Homo sapiens: one gene and its partner. The protein of the gene in region 1 interacts with the protein of each later gene in a biochemical or structural test. Each region holds a gene or a part of one and is shown in the gene's direction. Other genes may lie near its edges. The genes, in order: KMT5A and TCF7L2.

What was found.
Region 2: the proteins of KMT5A (region 1) and TCF7L2 form a complex in vitro, tested with the Homo sapiens proteins (one study listed by BioGRID).

What each region holds. Positions count from the first base shown.
Region 1 is NC_000012.12:123,386,308-123,394,941, forward strand, and holds part of KMT5A (N-lysine methyltransferase KMT5A), read left to right. Parts: intron 1-2,603; exon of another isoform or gene 2,604-2,760; coding exon of another isoform or gene 2,761-2,875; intron 2,876-3,125; coding exon 3,126-3,247; intron 3,248-3,729; exon of another isoform or gene 3,730-4,035; intron 4,036-4,322; coding exon 4,323-4,479; intron 4,480-4,967; exon of another isoform or gene 4,968-5,123; intron 5,124-8,634. UniProt on the Homo sapiens protein: Protein-lysine N-methyltransferase that monomethylates both histones and non-histone proteins. Specifically monomethylates 'Lys-20' of histone H4 (H4K20me1).
Region 2 is NC_000010.11:112,952,062-112,960,695, forward strand, and holds part of TCF7L2 (transcription factor 7-like 2), read left to right. Parts: exon of another isoform or gene 1-281; intron 282-8,634. UniProt on the Homo sapiens protein: Participates in the Wnt signaling pathway and modulates MYC expression by binding to its promoter in a sequence-specific manner. Acts as a repressor in the absence of CTNNB1, and as activator in its presence.

The sequences.
Region 1 (8,634 bases):
TGTGTTCAAGTGATTCTTGTGCCTCAGCTTCCCAAGTAGCTGGGATTACAGGCACCTGTCACCACACCCAGCTAATTTTTGTATTTTTAGTAGAGACGGGGTTTCGCCATGTTGGCCAGGCTAGTCTTGAACTCCTGACCTCAGGTTATCTGCCCACCTCGGCCTCCCAGAGTGCTGGGATTACAGGCAAAAGCCACCACGCCTGGCCAATATTTAGAATTGTAAATACCAAATCATTTACAGCACTTCAAATGAACAGTCTTTTTCTTCTAGAAAATTGGGCTTTGAACTTGCAATTCACTTTGAGAGCCCTGCTGGGTCACAGAAACAAACTGGTCAGATGCCAGGCAACACCTCACTCATTTTGAAGTTTTATAATCATGCAAATATTTACAACCCCAATATATTAGTCTCAGGGGTCAGTCCACCTACCTTTCACTATTTCTACTGCCATTGTTGAATGGTCTCTTGGTTGGTTGCCCTCCTCATTTTGCCATCTTCAGTTCATTATCCCTTAGCACCTGGTGGGGGGGTCTCCAAAAATACAGACTTTTCTTTTTTTTTGGGAGACAGAGTCTCACTCTGTCACCCAGGATAGAGTGCAGTGGCACAATCTTGGCTCACTGCAAACTCCACCCCCCTGGGTTCAAGTGACTCTCCTGCCTCAGCCTCCCAAGTAGCTGGGATTACAGGCATGCGCAACCACGCCAAGCTAATTTTTGTATTTTTAGTAGAGACGGGGTTTCGCCATGTTGGCCAGGCTGGTCTCAAACTCCTGATTTCAGGTGATTTGCCCTCCTCTGCCTCCCAAGGTGCTGGGATTACAGGTGTGAGCCACTGCGCCCAGCTGGTGTATTTGTTATATACGTATAAACTTGCGGAGAAAGGACTGTTTTGAAACTTACATTGAATGATCTGTATTTACATCTTCTAGGTACTGGAGCTGCAGAATTGAGAGGAATAGGTGCTAGACTTGTAATGTGTCCCCTGCAATTGGGGGCTCAAATGCAGAGAAAGCTATGACCATGAGTGGGGCGTGGGGTGTGGCTCGGTATACTAGAATGTGAAATGGATAAGATGATCTATGTGGGTGCTTCCTGCTCCAAAACCATGATTCTCATGGCAGTTAAGCTGCAAAACTTCTCTGCCTTGCAGAAATAGAAGACGCTTTCAAATGGCTCAACCTGGTTATCAGAGTGTCACTTTCGAATCCTCTTTCACCCTCTGGGTAATCTTTTGGATATTCAACTGTAGTAGGCTCTGCAGAGGGCATAGGCAGAGTACCTAGCCCACTGGAGTTAGTGGTTGGGCTGGAGACCCTGCCTTGAAGGATGCTAAAGCATGAGCTGATTTGGGAGGGATTGTCTGAGCAGTGACCTGTCACCACCTAATCCTACTCAGTCTTATCCGTTCCAATGGGAGTCGAGGGAGGCTAGGTGGGAGGATGGCTACAAACAGCCATTTGCTTATCTGTGGATGTTGGAAGGTGCTCTGGTGGATTATGGAATTCAAGGTTCTTGGTTTTTACCCATGAGGACACTGAGGCCCAGACTGGGGAAGTGACTTGGCGATGGTCACAAAACACCTCTGGGCAGATGCAGGGAAATAAGTCCAGCCCCTGACTCCCAGGCCATGGGCCAGGCTGCAGGAGCTGGATGCCTTGAAGTGTCTTGTTTGCATCTATGACTTTGCACAAATACAGTGAATCTGGCTGTGGGCCCTCAAGCCTTAATGGCCACAGAGTAGTGGTGCAGGGCAGTGAGCTATGCTGAAACAGCCACCAGAGTGACGGGAACCTCGTCTGCCTATGGGGGCATTTTCTCACGGCGGGATAGGAGAACAAGGTGACATGTTAAACCCTTCTGCAAGACCATTTGCTTCTCCCAAACTCCATTTCCTCATCTGTAACCAGGAAGGGTAGTGGCTGGGAGGGCAAGGCCCTGGGGTCAGTTGGCTGGGGCTGAAAACCCATCTAGTTCTGAGAACTTGGCCAAGCTCCTCACTTTCTCCATCTGTTGAAAAGAGATAATAATGGTGTCTACCTTTGCAGGGCTGCTGTGAGGTTTCAGTGAGATAACGGCAAGAGACTCGCCCAGGAAACCGATCATTATAACCCCTGGCTCTGTCTCCCCAGGGCTTCCTACCGGTCAAGTACAGCCCTTCTGGGTTTGACACCTGGCCCCATCACTTCCTAGTTCTGTGGCCCGGGACAAACCCCTGCACATCCCTTGAGTCACAGTGTCACCATTGTAAGCTGGGATGCCGACAGGACCTGCCCCCGTGGGCGTGCGGGGAGGATTCAATGCCTGTGAAACTCTCGGTGGGCACAGCGCCGGGCACACCCGAGGGCCTGGCCTGGCGCGTTCACCGCTGCTGATTTCGTCTGGCACAGACCGGGTTCCCAAAATATCCGCAGAGCCAGCGGAAAAAGGAGCCGGGCGGGCTGGCGGGAGGGCGGGCGGGAGCCTGGGCTGTCATGACGGTGTTTCCCACCCCTTCCTCCGCGAGTGGCTGAGGCCGCGCGAGAGGGGGCGCGCCCGAGCCGGGATTCGCCGCGCCCGCCCGCCCGCCCTCCGGAGCGGCCTGGCGGCGCCGCCCCTACCAGCCCCCTCCCCGGGCCGGGCGCCGGACGGTGGGCGGCTGCGAGCGGGCGGGAGGGCTGCGGAGGACGCGCCGCCTGCGCCTCCTTCCCTTCGTGCCTCGCCCCGGGCGGCCCGGGGCTGCCGCGGTGCGCGGGTGCCGGGCCCTGCCTCGCCGGCCATGGGGGAAGGGGGCGCCGTGGGGCGCCGCCGGCCCTTCCCCGGGGCGCCGCGGCGGCGCTGGTGGCGGCGGCGAGGGCGCGGGGCGCGCCGCCATGGGCCTGGCCGGGCTGCAGGTGGGTGTGTCGGGCCCGGCCGCGCGGGGGGCGGGCGGCGCGCGGGGCCTGGCCGGGCCGGGCGGCGGGAGGGCGACGCGGGCTCCGGCCCGGCCCTCCCGGCTGCGCGGGCGGCTCACCAGAGCCGGGGCCTCGAAATATGGCTGCGGCGGGAGGCGCCGTCGCGGCGCCCGGCCCGGGCGGCCCCGCTCCCCGCCCCGCCGCGCCCTGAGCGCCCCCTCCCCCGCTTCCCCCGGGTCCCCTTCTCCAGGCAGGAAGATGTCCAAGCCCCGCGCGGTGGAGGCGGCGGCGGCGGCGGCGGCGGTGGCAGCGACGGCCCCGGGCCCGGAGATGGTGGAGCGGAGGGGCCCGGGGAGGCCCCGCACCGACGGGGTAAGCAGGCACCCTCCCCGCACCCCTGCGGCGCGCCCGCCGGGCCGGGGCCGCGAGCACATGGGCGACCCCGGGTACCCGCCCGGGGCGCCCGGCCGGGCCGCTTCCTTTGCTGCCGCCTGGCTGGGAGTGGCGCCCACACGGCTCCGCCATGAGCCTGGCGGTGTTTGACCTCGGAAAAGTTTGACTGCGCCTTCGTGGCGTCTCCGCAGCCCAAGACCCTACTTCCCCGGAGGTGGCCGCGGTCCCAGGCTGTGCGGGGCCTGCGCGGGCCCCTCGGAGAGGTCACGGGTCTCACCGCCTCGGTGTTGAATGGTCCCCGAGGCGGCGAGGGCCCGGCGTTGCTTCTGGGGACGCCCTCCTCCGTCTGTACTTACTCAGAGGAGGGGCCCCACGCCCAGAGGCGCCCGCAGTGACCTGAACCGCCCCACCGCCCCGTCCACTCTCTTACTGACGCCCAGGTGCGGCTTGCGACAAAGTGGCCGCCCCGAATGCGCTGGCTGTGGCTCCTGCTCTTCCCAGATTCCCCAGTCACCCTGAGAGAAGTCCTCCCGTCGCAGCCCTGGAGGCTGCGGGGCTGCAGTGATTTGAGAGGGGTCAGGCTCCGGCGCTCATGGGGCTCTGGCTGTGCTGACAGGCCCTCCAGCCGCCCTCAGCACCAAGTGGTTAATCAGGTTCCCCGGGGCGTGTTTCTGTGCTGAGTCCCTGCGGCTCCTGCCAGGGCAGTGAACTCCTAAAGATAGCCTAGCTCTTCACATGCCCAGGTCCTTTTGACCTCCCTGTTGCGGGTAGGCTGTCTTCTTCCTATATAGACCTTGGGTTGCAGCCGACTCTCCTGCTGGCCAGCTGTCCCCTTAGTGATTTAGAGACCAGCGCGTTTAGGAAACGTTTCACTGGACCTGGGATTCTAAACCTGCCAGTGCTCTCCTGAGACAATGGGGGCTGGCATCCCCTGGTAGCCCAGTTTTTGAAAAACGGTGTTGTCTGATTTTCATCTTTTGTATTCCTCCTCCTCGTGAATGCTCTAGGATCTTCTTCTTCAAGCCTCTTTCAGAATATGCTTTTGTCTTTTTAGGAGAACGTATTTACCGGGCAGTCAAAGATCTATTCCTACATGAGCCCGAACAAATGCTCTGGAATGCGTTTCCCCCTTCAGGAAGAGAACTCAGTTACACATCACGAAGTCAAATGCCAGGGGAAACCATTAGCCGGAATCTACAGGAAACGAGAAGGTAAGCTTTTGAAATGGCCTCGTTCTGATCCCAGCTGGTCGGGTTGCAGAAGCCTCTGTCCTCTGCAAGAATGCACATATGTATTTATCCAACCTTTTCAGTCTCAGATTCGAGAGGTTTGAGCCATGTTCTGTCTTGCTGCTGAAAGAATGGCTTGTCCCAGGGTGTGTGCCCTGTTGGTTTGACAGGTTTTCCCTGCTTTCACAAGAGTTAGCATATCCTTCAAGCTTGATTGTCTTGCTTAGTTGCAAAAATAACATACCTGACCCACAATTAGAGAGGCTCACAAGTGCTGAAAGTGCAGAAGTCATGAATTCAGGTTGTACAGACCAGGCAATTGCAGACCTAACTAATGTGTTCATGTAGGGAACTGACTTCCTTCCCTTTTATGAGCTGGCCTTGACCCCATTTCTTTTTCTTTTTTTGAGACGGATTTCCGCTCTCGTCCCTCAGGCTGAAGTGCAATGGCACGATCTCAGCTCACTGCAACCTCCGCCTCCTGGGCTCAAGCGATTCTTCTGCTGCAGCCTCCTGAGTAGCTGGGATTACAAGCGGCCGCCACCACGCCCAGCTAATTTTTGTATTTTTGGTAGAGACGGGATTTCACCGTGTTGGCTAGACTGGTCTCAAACTCCTGACCTCAGGTGATCCACCTGCCTTGGCCTCCCAAAATGATGGGATTACAGGCATGAGCCACCGCGCCTAGCTGCCTTGACCCCATTTCTAAAGTTTCCTGCCAATCAAGCATTTGGTGTTAGTTTCTGAAGCAGCATCCTATGCAATGAGATTTGGAGTTAAAATGTTAAACCCGAAAATACAGGGTTAATGAAAACGGTCTGGTCTTGCAAAACAAACTGAAACCTCTTAGACATCTTGCTCTAATCCAAATATTCCCTTTCAAAGCTGCAGTGGGGAGTGTCAGCTTTCCCCAATTCACCATGCTCTCTTCTAATTAAAACTTGTCTGAAAGAAGCAGAGCCTCTGGCTGCCAGCAGCTCCATACAAGGAAGCCTTGTGTTCGCTAACAGAAAGTGTCATAAATGACGATTTGGCATGACCTCTGGGGCCGGATCTGAGAACCAGGGCTGGGCAAGCCCTGAACTGGGGACAGGAGCCCACCCTGTGCTTGATCTCCCCTGGTACACAGGGCAATATTGTTTTATTTGATCTTCAGATGACTTGGGTTCCAATCTTAAGTTTGCCACCTGAAAGAAGGAGGCTTAGATAGGTTGCTGCTCTCTTCTGAGCCTCTGTTCTCTCATCTGTAAATGGGGAGAGAGGAGTCTGACCTCACACACACAGGACTGTTTTGAAGGGTGGTTGCAGCGTGGATGCCAAAGGGCTTTGTGGTGGACTCCATGTGCCAGCTCTTCACCCCTGGACTGCCAGCTCATCCCTGGACCTGTGGCACTTAGAATTCCTGCCCATAGGGTTGGGGAGAGGCGCTGTCTATAAATGGTAGTTGCCCGGACTCTAGTCCTTTAAAATAGGGCAGTCTATACATTGTACCAAATGGTGGCCTGGTATACAAGCTAGTATATTTGGCTCATGGTTTTACTAAATGGCCATGATTAGAATTTTGGGTCAGAGTCCGGGCATGGTGGCTCGGGTTTGTAATTCCAGCACTTTGGTAGGCCAAGGCAGGAGGATTGCTTGAGCCCAGGAGTTTGAGACCAGCCTGGGCAACATAGTGAGGCCTCATCTCTACAACAATGAAAACAAAAAAAATTAGCCTGGCATGGTGGCATGCATCTGTAGTCCCAGCTGCTTGGGAGGCTAAGGCAGGAGGATCCCTAGCACCCAGGAGTTTAAAGCTGCAGTGAGCTATGATCATGCCACTGCACTCCAACCTGGGGAACAGAGAGAAACCCCATCTCTAATATAAAAATAAAAAGAATTTAGGTCAGCTGGACTTTGGAGACCCCAAGGTCCAGGCTGTGGTCCGTGATTCTGCTGTGATACAGACTGAGTGATAGATAATGTTCACGGGCACCACACACTCCTGGGCCTGATGTCCTGGCTTTAATTCTCTCTGATTTCACCCAGGAAGGTGTGTAGAGGAGGAAGAAAGATCTGGATGGTTTTAATGGTTTTTGTTTGTTTTTTTTGAGACACAGTCTCGCTCTGTCTTGCAGTCTGGAGTGCAGTGGTGCAATCTCGGCTCACTGCAACCTCCATCTCCCGGGTTCAAGCAATTATCCTGCCTCAACCTCCCAAGTAGCTGAGATTACAGGTGCCCGCCACCACGCTCGGCTAATTTTTTGTATTTTCAGTAGAGATGGGGTTTCACCATGTTGGCCAGGCTGGTCTTGAACTCCTGACCTCAGGTGGCCCACCCGCCTTGGCCTCCCAAAGTGCTGGGATTACAGGTGAAGTCACTGTGCCCGGCCTAATGTATTTATTTATTTTTCTGTTTTGTTTATCTAGATATAGTTAATATATCATAACGTTCATGTTAAAGCGTATGAGTCGGTGGTTTTTAGTATATTCACAGGGTTGCGCAACCATTACCACAGTCTAATTCCAGAACGTTTCCATCACCCCAGAAAGGTACCCATTAGGCGTCACCTTCGATTCCCCATCCCTCTAGTCCAAGGTAACCATTAAAGTACTTTCTGTCTCTGTGGATTTGCCTGTTTTGGACATTTCATATGGATGGAATCACAAAATACATAGCCTTTTGTGTCTGGCTTCTTTCACTGAGCATCATGTCTTCAAGGTTCATCCGCGGTGTAATAAGTATCAGTGCTTCATTCCTTTTTTTTATTTTTGAGAAGGAGTCTCTCTCTCTCACCCAGGCTGGAGTACAATGGTGCAATCTTGGCTCACTGCAACCTCTGCCTCCCAGGTTCAAGCTATTCTCCTGCCTCAGCCTCCCAAATAGCTGGGATTATAGGCGCACACCACCACGCCTGGCTAATGTTTTTATATTTTTAGTAGAGATGGGGTTTTACCATCTTGGCCAGGCTGGTCTCGAACTCTTGACCTCAGGGGAGCCACCCTGCCCAGCCCTTCATTCCTTTTTATGGCTGGATAATACTCCCTTTTGTGGATAGGCCACATTTTGTTTATTCATCTGTTGATGGACATTTGGGTTGTTTCCACTTTTTGGCTATTACAAATAAACTGTTACGTTCCTGCATAGATTTTTTTGGGGACATATGTTTTTAATTCTCTGGAATAGATGCCTAGGAGTGAAATTGCTGGGTCATATGGTAACTCTGTGTTTAACTTTTTGGGAAAATGTCAAACTGTTTCTAAAGTGGCTGCACCATTTTATATCTGTGAGCAGCGTACTATTTACTTAATTTTTTTTTCTTTTTTTTTTTTTTTTTGAGACAGAGTCTCACTCTTTCGCCCAGGTTGGAGTGCAATGGCATGATCTTAGCTCACTGCAACCTCCGCCTCCCAGGTTCAAGCAGTTCTCCTGCCTCAGCCTCCTGAGTAGCTGGGATTACAAGTGTCCGCCAGTACACTTGGCTAATTTTTGTATTTTTAGTAGAGATGGGGTTTACCATGTTGGCCAGGCTGGTCTTGAACTCCCGACCTCAGGTGATCCGCCAGCCTCGGCTTCCCAAAGTGCTGGGATTACAGGCAGGAGCCACTGTGTCCAGCCTATTTACTTAGTTATTTAAAAGTAAAACATTTTTTAAAAAGGTAAGCAGTTTTCCAACACTGTCACTCCACAAGTGTTTTAAGTGACAGATCATTGCAGTGTGTCTCCCGATACCCAGGCCAGTCTGCTGGGGCACCATGCTGAGAACTGCTGTGAACCTGGGGCTTCAACCCCACTAGAAGGGGACCTTCTTTTTCTTCGGAGTCTGAAATGAAGGGTGCCAGGCAGCTCTTGGGGAAGAGTTTCTGCTTTGTCACCTTACTCCTGTCCCCTAATGCTGTCCCAGCCTTCAGGAATGGAGCTTTTGATCTGAGTCTGCAACCTGATTCCTGAAAGCTATTGATCAAGCACCCTGCCAGCGTCTCCGTCTCTGGTGCCTCTCCCTCACAGGCTCTCTATCTCCCACGTCAAGATGCAAAAGCCTAAAACCTCTGCCCAGTGTCTTGGTCAAAAAATCGAGCTGGAGCTAGGCACTCCCCCTGTCATAGCCCATAGCGGACACGGGGCTTAACAGGCCAAGGGCACTCCTGCCTGACAAA
Region 2 (8,634 bases), on another chromosome or scaffold:
CGGTTAACCCCTTGGCTGCCGCTGCGGGCCACGAGTGACTGACTGTGCTGCGCCCGATGCGCGGGGTAGAGAGTGGGTTTCCTCCAGGCATTGGACTTGAGAACTGGCTAGCGCGCAGAGCCCGGGGCCCTGGAGAGGCTCCTTGGCTTTCTCTTTTGGGCGACTATGTATTTAGCTTTCTAGTGGAGATTGCTGGCTCTCGGCCCTCCTTCCCCCTTCCCCTGGAAGGTCACACTTCCCAGATTGGTCCCACCGCAAACTTGGGGGCTCTGAGGCGTCCTTTTCTTTGGCAACCCGCAGGGCCGCGAGCGCCCTGGGCGCCGTGGCGGGCTCCGCTGCCCGGCGCACTGGCTGCGGGCTCTCCCGGGCCGCGCAGGGCAGCAGGGCTGAGTGGGGCGGGGAGGCCCCTGCGGCCCGGATTCTTGGTTTGTGTGCAGCCGGAATGGACTCCTCCAAGCGGACTTGTGTATTTCTAGGGAATTTTGGCGCCTTGGGATGTATGGCGGGGTCGGCGCTCGCCAGCTTCCGTGTAGGCCCGTCGTGGGCCCCAGGGGGGCCAGAGACCAGGGTGTGCGGGCTCAAGGAGGTGCGGGGGCCGAGGGAGGCTGGGGCGCCTCTCCTTCAAGGGAGTGGGCCGCCGATCGCCGGCCACCCAACTTTGGGGGCCCCAGGGCAGCGCGGGGTGCCGGGCTCGGGGGGCGCTTCCTGCAGGGTCGGTCCCGCGCCCAACCCTGACATTTGTTAATACGGCTCATCCCCTCCCCCACCGGCCTGTGCCCCCTGCCCTCACCCTGAACCCCCTCCTCCTCATCCCTCCCTCCCTCTTCTAAGAAGCCTGGATTACGAATCCCTGGACGCAAGACGCATTTGTGCCCGGCTTCCCGGTATTGTCATTTTACACCTTCTCCAGTTTGGTCCCCTACCCCTTATTTACACACACGACTTTTGTTTTTTCTTTTTCGGTAACTCTAGATAGCAATTTGAAATAATGCACCCACTGTTCAGCAGCCATGGATTCGGTGCTAATGGCCGAGGGCTTGCCGGACGGGAGTCGATCAGATCTACAAGTGTTTTTAAGCATTAAAATATTAACTATCAGGTTTGACTTGCTTTTTTGGGCCCTGGCAAAATGGCAAGGGCATGCTAGACCGGTCATTTTTTTTATGGCTAGGGAAGAGAAATAATTATTCCCCCCCTGCCCGGCGCCCAGACATGCTTGGGAAGCTGGGAGAGCGGTTCGGCTCAACCCCCTTCTCCAGGGCCAGTTCCACCAGGCTGCAGGGGCCGCGCTCTGGGCTTGCAGCTGTAGGGGAAGCACAGTTCGCTTACTTTGTATTTTTCTTGGGAGCTTGTGGGGCATCTTAAACGGGACCGTTCGGCTCAGAATCGCAGTGTTCGCCTACCAATAAACCGGACCAAGCAACATTCCAAAGAATCCCTGAGAATTTCTGCCTCTCCTCCCCTCCCCCTTCCGATGGAAACCTCCCTGGTATTATTTTAAAATCCACTTAACCATCTGAATATTGAGCTTTGATGGCGGGCTTGCTAGCTTTCTTGACTCTTTTTAAACTCGCTGTCTGATACTGGCAATCTTGCCATCCCTTCTCAAACTTGAGCAGTTGTGTTGTCTTGTAATTAGCAAACAGGGAAATTGCTAAAGGCAAATAAATGATTTCCCGGTGAGAAAAGGAAGGCTCCCAATGATCGGTCCCTTTTGTGGGCATTATAGGAATAGACGGCGTCTAGTTATTTTAATTGTGGACATAGCGGGTGGCCTGGTGCTGTGACATCAGATTGAGTCTCAGAACACATTTCTGAACTCAGTAGGCAGTTTTAGTACTTACATGTCAAACACCAGCAGACATCTTTGTGTACACTGCCCCTTCGTCCTTCCTCCCTGTTACCTGGGTTAGATTATGTGCTCCAAAATTAAAGTTATTTATTTAGGCTGGTCAGCAGAGCAGTGGAAATGAGGATGGTAGGCTGTTGTGTGTCATTCCTGACGTCTTCAATCAGAAGGCCAGCTTGCAATCCAGATTTGATACAGCTGCGGGAGGAATGGAGGAATGCATAGGCAAGATAGCGGGCTTCCCATACTCTTCTGAAATCCTTAGTGTTTTATAGGGTGTGTTTTTAATGGCAAGGTGTAAAGACAAATTTCGCTGTATGCTTTATTATTTTCCCTTTGCTCCTTGGTGGCGGTGATTTTTGCTACATTTTCTGTTACTTATGGTGTACCTGTAAGCAGCTGCATCCTTTAAAAAGCAAACTCTCTGGAACCCTGATTTCTGCTTTTTTATTTAAGAATGTAAAGAATTAGAGAGTATCATTAAATCGGCTTATGATGAATAATACATTATCTCAAGAATAATGCTTTAATTGCTGAAGACACCATAAAGCTTGATAGTAATAATTTTATTTTAAAATGACAAAGATTTCTGCATAATATTAATTTAGTCTTTGATTCAGTAATAGGAATGGCTTTTAAAAAGACAGATTCAGATACAAAACTGCATTAAGGAGAGGTCTAGTTAAGTAGATGGGAAGTGTTAGAACTGCAAATATTAGAACTGTGGTAACATTTGTATATTAAAGATAAGAATACTGTAACCTATTAAAGTTGATTGGAAAAAGTAGTTTTACATTTCTTTTTCCCTCCTGGCAAAGTGGAAATAGGAATATGGTGGTTGAAATTCCAGTTAGGTTTGAAATTTCTTTTTAAGGACTTGATTATTCGAGCCCTTGCATCTTCTCTTATCCAAAGTTATTTGCTTTTCAACCGAGCTCTTTGCTACTAGGTTGAACAGATAAATAAGCTGCATCTTGAATTCATTTTTGAACTTGGAATCCAGCATTTAAAGGAAACCGAGAGGGGCCTATTCATTGGGATTTTATTTAGCCGGGCAACTTCTCTTTCTGGCTTGTGAAAAATGGACGTTTTTTCCTCACTGAAACAACATAATCCTTTCTAATACAAAAGATTTAGACCTTGGAGTGTGAAGGGTTAATGGTGGTCCTTCCCAGTTGTCCTCCCACCCCCCCACCTCACCCCTGATTGTTTTGACAACACTTTTCAAAGTGTGACATTCCAAGCCCCTACATAACAATGTAATATTACTGTAATTACACAGGTCATTACATTTTAAATAGAGAACAATAAAATGCTTATCGCCCTGAAAAAGAACAGGTGTTCTTACCCTTCTTTGGTATTTATGCTAATTGTTTTTCATCTCCTTCAGAAATATTTATGGCGAACATGTTTAGATTTCAATCTCAATGCAACCGTATTAATTCCATGCTAATCTTTATAGGTTGGGGTTTAATGTCTGCAGTATGGATTATAGGCTCAACATTCACCCAATAAGTCATATTTTAATGATTATAAATTAAATATGCCAGCGCTTTCCACTTTGTTGATATTGAAACTTTCTGAAATCCCAGAAACAAACTCAGGCATTTGGGAGCCTAACGAGCTTATCTGGAAGACGTGTTTTTGGAAACTTTTGACTGTTTAAGGGAAGGAGCTTTGACTGATGCCCTCTGTGTCTGATTGAGAAAGAGTTTTTTGAGGAAAACAATCCTCGTTCTTGCTAGGAGTTCTTCACCTTGATTTTAATTTTACTGATAGGGATTTCATTTAGAGTCATTGCTGGAAGTTGGTCAGCTTTCTGTTTCTTAGCAAGCTGTGAAAAAGTTACCGGAAGGTTTCCAGGGGCTTGCAGATCAAGAATGCTGTTCTGTTTGCCGTGCTGGATCGCTGCAGTTCTGCACGCCATTGAAAAAAATATTTGCTTTAGAAAACTAGCATTTTAATAGTTGCACCAGAGGCTGTGCTTTTAAAGATTACAGTAGAAGTCTTTCCAGGTTTCGAATGCCTCCTTACATCCCACGAGGTGCCCCTGGCTGTGTGCAAAAAGTGCCTAGATTTCTCGGTGGAGAAATCCTGGTGCAACTTCTCTTACACACGTGCAGTGGGTAAACTAGAAGGTATCTAAGAGGATTTTACATTTTGTCAGATGTTTCACAACAGGCCCCCCTGAATCACATTAAAAATGCACTGTAGAGAAAGGACAGCTGCAAATTTTTGTGTGGACGCGTGTTTCTGGACCATGACTAAAACTCCGAGGACCTTTCCCCCAGCTGTCTGGAAGTTATGTGGAAGTTGGTTTATTGGCAGTTAAGTATGAGACAACCTGGATTTAGCAAATGCTCTCTCCTGCACAGGAAGTAGATGACATTATATTGGGGGAAGGGAGGAGATTTCAGGCAAGGAGTGATTTACCTTTTTTTTTTTTTTTTTTTTTTTAAATGCTGGAGTTGCCAAATAAATAAGCACTTTCCAGGGAAGTAAGTGTAAGCTTTTTAGTCTTGGTGAGTGGCATTAGATAATATCTTTGACTGCATTTATAATTCTTTTGAGGTGACACATTTTAAAGTTTGGAAAAGGAGGCTGAACCAAATTCTTGAGGGTCTTATTTTCAAAGGGGTGTGTGATGTGGGCATCTGAGTTTCTTCTGGGAGTGAATATTGGCAACTATGTAAGTAAATCTTCAACTCTGACTTATAATTGAGCACATTTGTGAAGGAAATGGTTAATTTTACAACCAAAGGCAAACTCGCACCTCGACAGGTCTGCTGAAAGAAATGTGCCCCAGTCTTTTTGCTGGCAAGCGCACCACCAGGTCATAAATCCACAGGCTTTATTTACAGCCCATAACACTTATGAATGTTAAGATATTTGACGCCACGTTGGCCTTATAATATTCAAGGTCCGCAGACATTGGCAGTAGCTCAGATTTCTCTCACTAATTATAAGCAATGAGATGGGGGGAGGTGGTGGTATCCTAATGCAAATGCTGCCCTCCCTTCTCCGCTGACCCCCACCTCTACAATCTTGAGTTTACTGAGACAGACGCCACCACTCCTTTGGCAGCTGACTTGTACGTTTCCTCTAGGCTATTGTTATACACATTTATAAAGAGCACTTTCAGGAATGGAAATTCAGTGGGGGCTCTGCACAGATGCCTTTTTCAAAAGCAAAGTTGCTCTAGGTGTTTGCATCTTTTCCCTTTTCTTTTCTCCCTTTTTCCTTTCTTTCTCTTTTCTTAATTCCCCCCAACACCCCCACCTTTTTTTTTTTTTTTTTTTTTTTTTTGAGATTACATTGCCTATATTGTGCATTTTCCCCAGGAATACTTAAAGAAACCTGGTATGGGAGACGGCTCTTTAATTTATATGATGTTCCCCTGAGTGGAAGGGAAAATGTACACATTACATAGTACACTAGTTAAACTAGTTAACGTGAGAGTTTTTAAAAAAGTGAGATGAGGTGAAGAGAGTTGACTAAAAGAATATAATAGGTGAGGGGAAAAAAAATCCAGGTTTACACTGGGGATGGGAGGGCTGCTTATTTGTGAAAAATGTACTGGTATCTGCGGGAGGAGGCACAGAAAAGTAGCCAGAGGAGACAGAATAAATGCCTAAGAAAGATAAGAAAAGTATAATACAAGAGAACAAAGATTTGGGTTTGGGGGAATTGAAATTGGAGATTGGAAGTTTCCTTATGGAGGGGCGTGGGAGTACCCTGGGCTGGGCTATTAAAAAGGGATATTGCTTTGCTCAGCAAAGATGGGCTGCGATCCCTTCATTACCCAGGGTGTTCTACCTAGCCACAGATGTGTTTCCTATCAGTTACTGTGTAAGCATCTGAGGGTGAGGCATTATCTGTGGTGGAGACTGGAGTGTGAGAGAGAAGGCCAGTTGTCCTGCTGATTTTAATTTATGTTGAAAAAGTGGGCTGTTCTGGTGTATTACAAACTGACTACGCGGTATAAGGAGGAAGTGAGATTCAAAGGTGTTTGCCAGGCCAGGAGAGATGATGGCTCTCATTTCTGACTGGATCCTTCCTTCCATCCAACCCAAACTTAAAGACCCAGGCCGAAAGGTTTTCTTTTCTAATCAATGGCATGCAGAAACTTACTAGCCCTCAGGGATAGATATGAATCCCTAAACAGCTCATTACAAAGAAGGGGCTGTGGGATCTTTGAACGGGTTATCAGCCGAGGTGTTCTTTGCTTTTCCCAAGATAGGTTTTTTCTCCTTAGGCACATCTGATTTCGGGCTAGTAATTCGACCTGTTATATTTTATTCTTTTTGTCATGCAGTAGCCCCAACCAGGTCGGTCTACGGAGGAAGGAATGGCCAGGAGTGGCATCAGCCCTGAAGGAGTTAAAATTGCTCCCTAAAGTTTGGCATCATGAAAATAAATTTGAGGCCTGGTAGGCATTAGCAGGGCACAGCACATTTACAGAGCTTAATTAGTACGCACTGTAATTGTTCATGGTCTGCCAGAAGAAGTAATGTTCAGGAAAAGTGGAGTCCCTCTCTTGCAGTCTTCAGCTTGAAACCGATAAATCACTTGCATATTTGTGTAGTGATTCAAATGGAGCTAAGACCTCTCCCATCCCAACATGTGGTAAATTGTAAAGTCAATGAATTGCAGATGTAGGCTACAGTGAGATTCTCTAAGAAAATGCAGAATGAATGGGAAAGAGTGACGCTATAAATATTTACTGAGAAGATAACTAGATTCCTTCGTGCTGGGCCAATTATGATGTACTAAAATATATTAGTAAAATGCTTAAAAAATTGAGAGGATTTGTGTGGGTCTTTGGGTGGGTTGGTTTGTTTTGGAAAGTGAAATAAAAGGCACTATGTTGTTGTCGTGTCAGTTTTATTAAGCCTGAATCACAATGGCATACCCAGGGAAGGACACATGAAACCCACATTAATGCAAATTAATTCGTTATGAGTTGCAGCACTGCGACTGCTAAGTGGAGTAATGATGGGGCATCATTTTAAGAGTTTTAGTGTAGCAACTTTTAATGAAAAATGCTGTGTTAGGAACATGTCTCAGCACTTCAGCCCACGTGTTTTTCTATATGCTAGAAATATGTTTTGTACAAGAGCAGGAAACTTGATTCACTTTATTTTTTCCCCCAGACAGTTTAAGAGCTTTAATTATGTTTTGACGTTGAAAGAAAATCATCTAGTTTTTCTCAAAAATCAACCCAGAAATGCCCATCACCATAAAGAAGTTCAAGCTCAACTTTTTTTTTTTGCGAGACTTTGCAGCACAAAGTGGAGAAACGATGAACATAGCATTTCCCCGCAGACCTACAGATAAAACTTTCTTGAAGCGACTTTTTCCCCTTTTTTTCTTCTTAGAGAATTTTGGTCTCAGGCAATGTTGCAAGTCAATACTTCTTTCCCCAAATGTGAGTAGGTGGATACGTATAGAAGCTGTAAAAGTTAATGATCGTTCTCTGACTCATAGCTGATGGTTTCAGGTTGAGGAAAAGAAAAATTAATGAGGGTAAATAGACATTTGATGGAACATTGAGACAGTAGGAGAGATTGTTCTTGTGTCTAAAGGCATGCATTTTGTTGCAGCAGAATTTCTGAGGCAGAATGCCAGGAAGTGAAAGGGGATGCTGTCGTTAAGTTATTGTTTAGGGATGGTACAAATGTTCAGTGTCTAGATCTCTGCAGGAATGTTTAAGCTCAAGTACCAGGCAATGCTGGTTTTGCCTTTTCTCTTGAAGTCAGAGGCCCCCCTTGGTACTTTTTATAAGGGCAGGCAGTCACCCAAAGTCTTGGTCAAAAGTTTATTTCCCATTAAATGTAAAAGGCTCTCAACACAGGACTGGGGGCAGTGGGGTAGGGGAAGCTGGGCTTATAATGGCCTGTGGTTGCTCAAATGACTAATGACCTAAGAAAAGGTCTTAGGTATACTAAAAAAAAGTATTTTGTTTCTTAAGGTAATTACATGGAAATTAGATTTCAAGTGGCTCATGGTAGCAGCTACAGGGTAGAGAGGAAAGTGGACCAAAAAAACTAACACCTCCTAGGAAATGATCTGTTTTTTTTTTTAATATAGATAAGAGAAAGCCAGGTGATTCATAAAACTGAAAATAAAGTAAATGTTCCACCTCTTCCCAATTTAGCAGGACGAATAGGCATCAAAAATTAATGTGCATCATGTTAGAAGTTAGCTTAGTGCTGGAAAAACCAACAGAGGATTTCAATTGTTTTAATTGTCTTTGAGGAGGAGATTCCTGTGGTTGAAAAAAGCTGTTTCCCATTCCATGTCTGGGTATCTCTGATGTTTTGCATATCAGAAACATCAAATTTAGAGCCCAGTAGTGATTAGAAATAAGATGAAGAATCTAGATATGATGATAATAAGGGAAGGGGTTAATCTTAAAATGTTGGTCTTTACATTGCTGAAGAATTTTGCAAGCCTGTGCTGAGAACTGCCGAGTCTTCACCGTTCTTCCTCTGGACAAGTGAGGGCTGAGGCATTTGTGGGTAGTAGAATGGGGGATGGGCTTGGTCACTGATTTTTGTTGAGAGCTTCATGGGAAGCAATGAAATGGAAAATACGCTGGAGTTCTCATCTGGTGACTCCCTGGGTACTCCAGGCAGGGAAGTGCCATTTTGAAGGTGTGAGGCACAGCCAGGTGAGAGCAGCCATGTTTGCCGGATGAGGAAATGATGTGGAGTGGTCTTGGAGCACTCCTGGTGACTGGTGCAGGACAGTCCCAAGAGATGAGGCAGATGGGAACCTGTTTT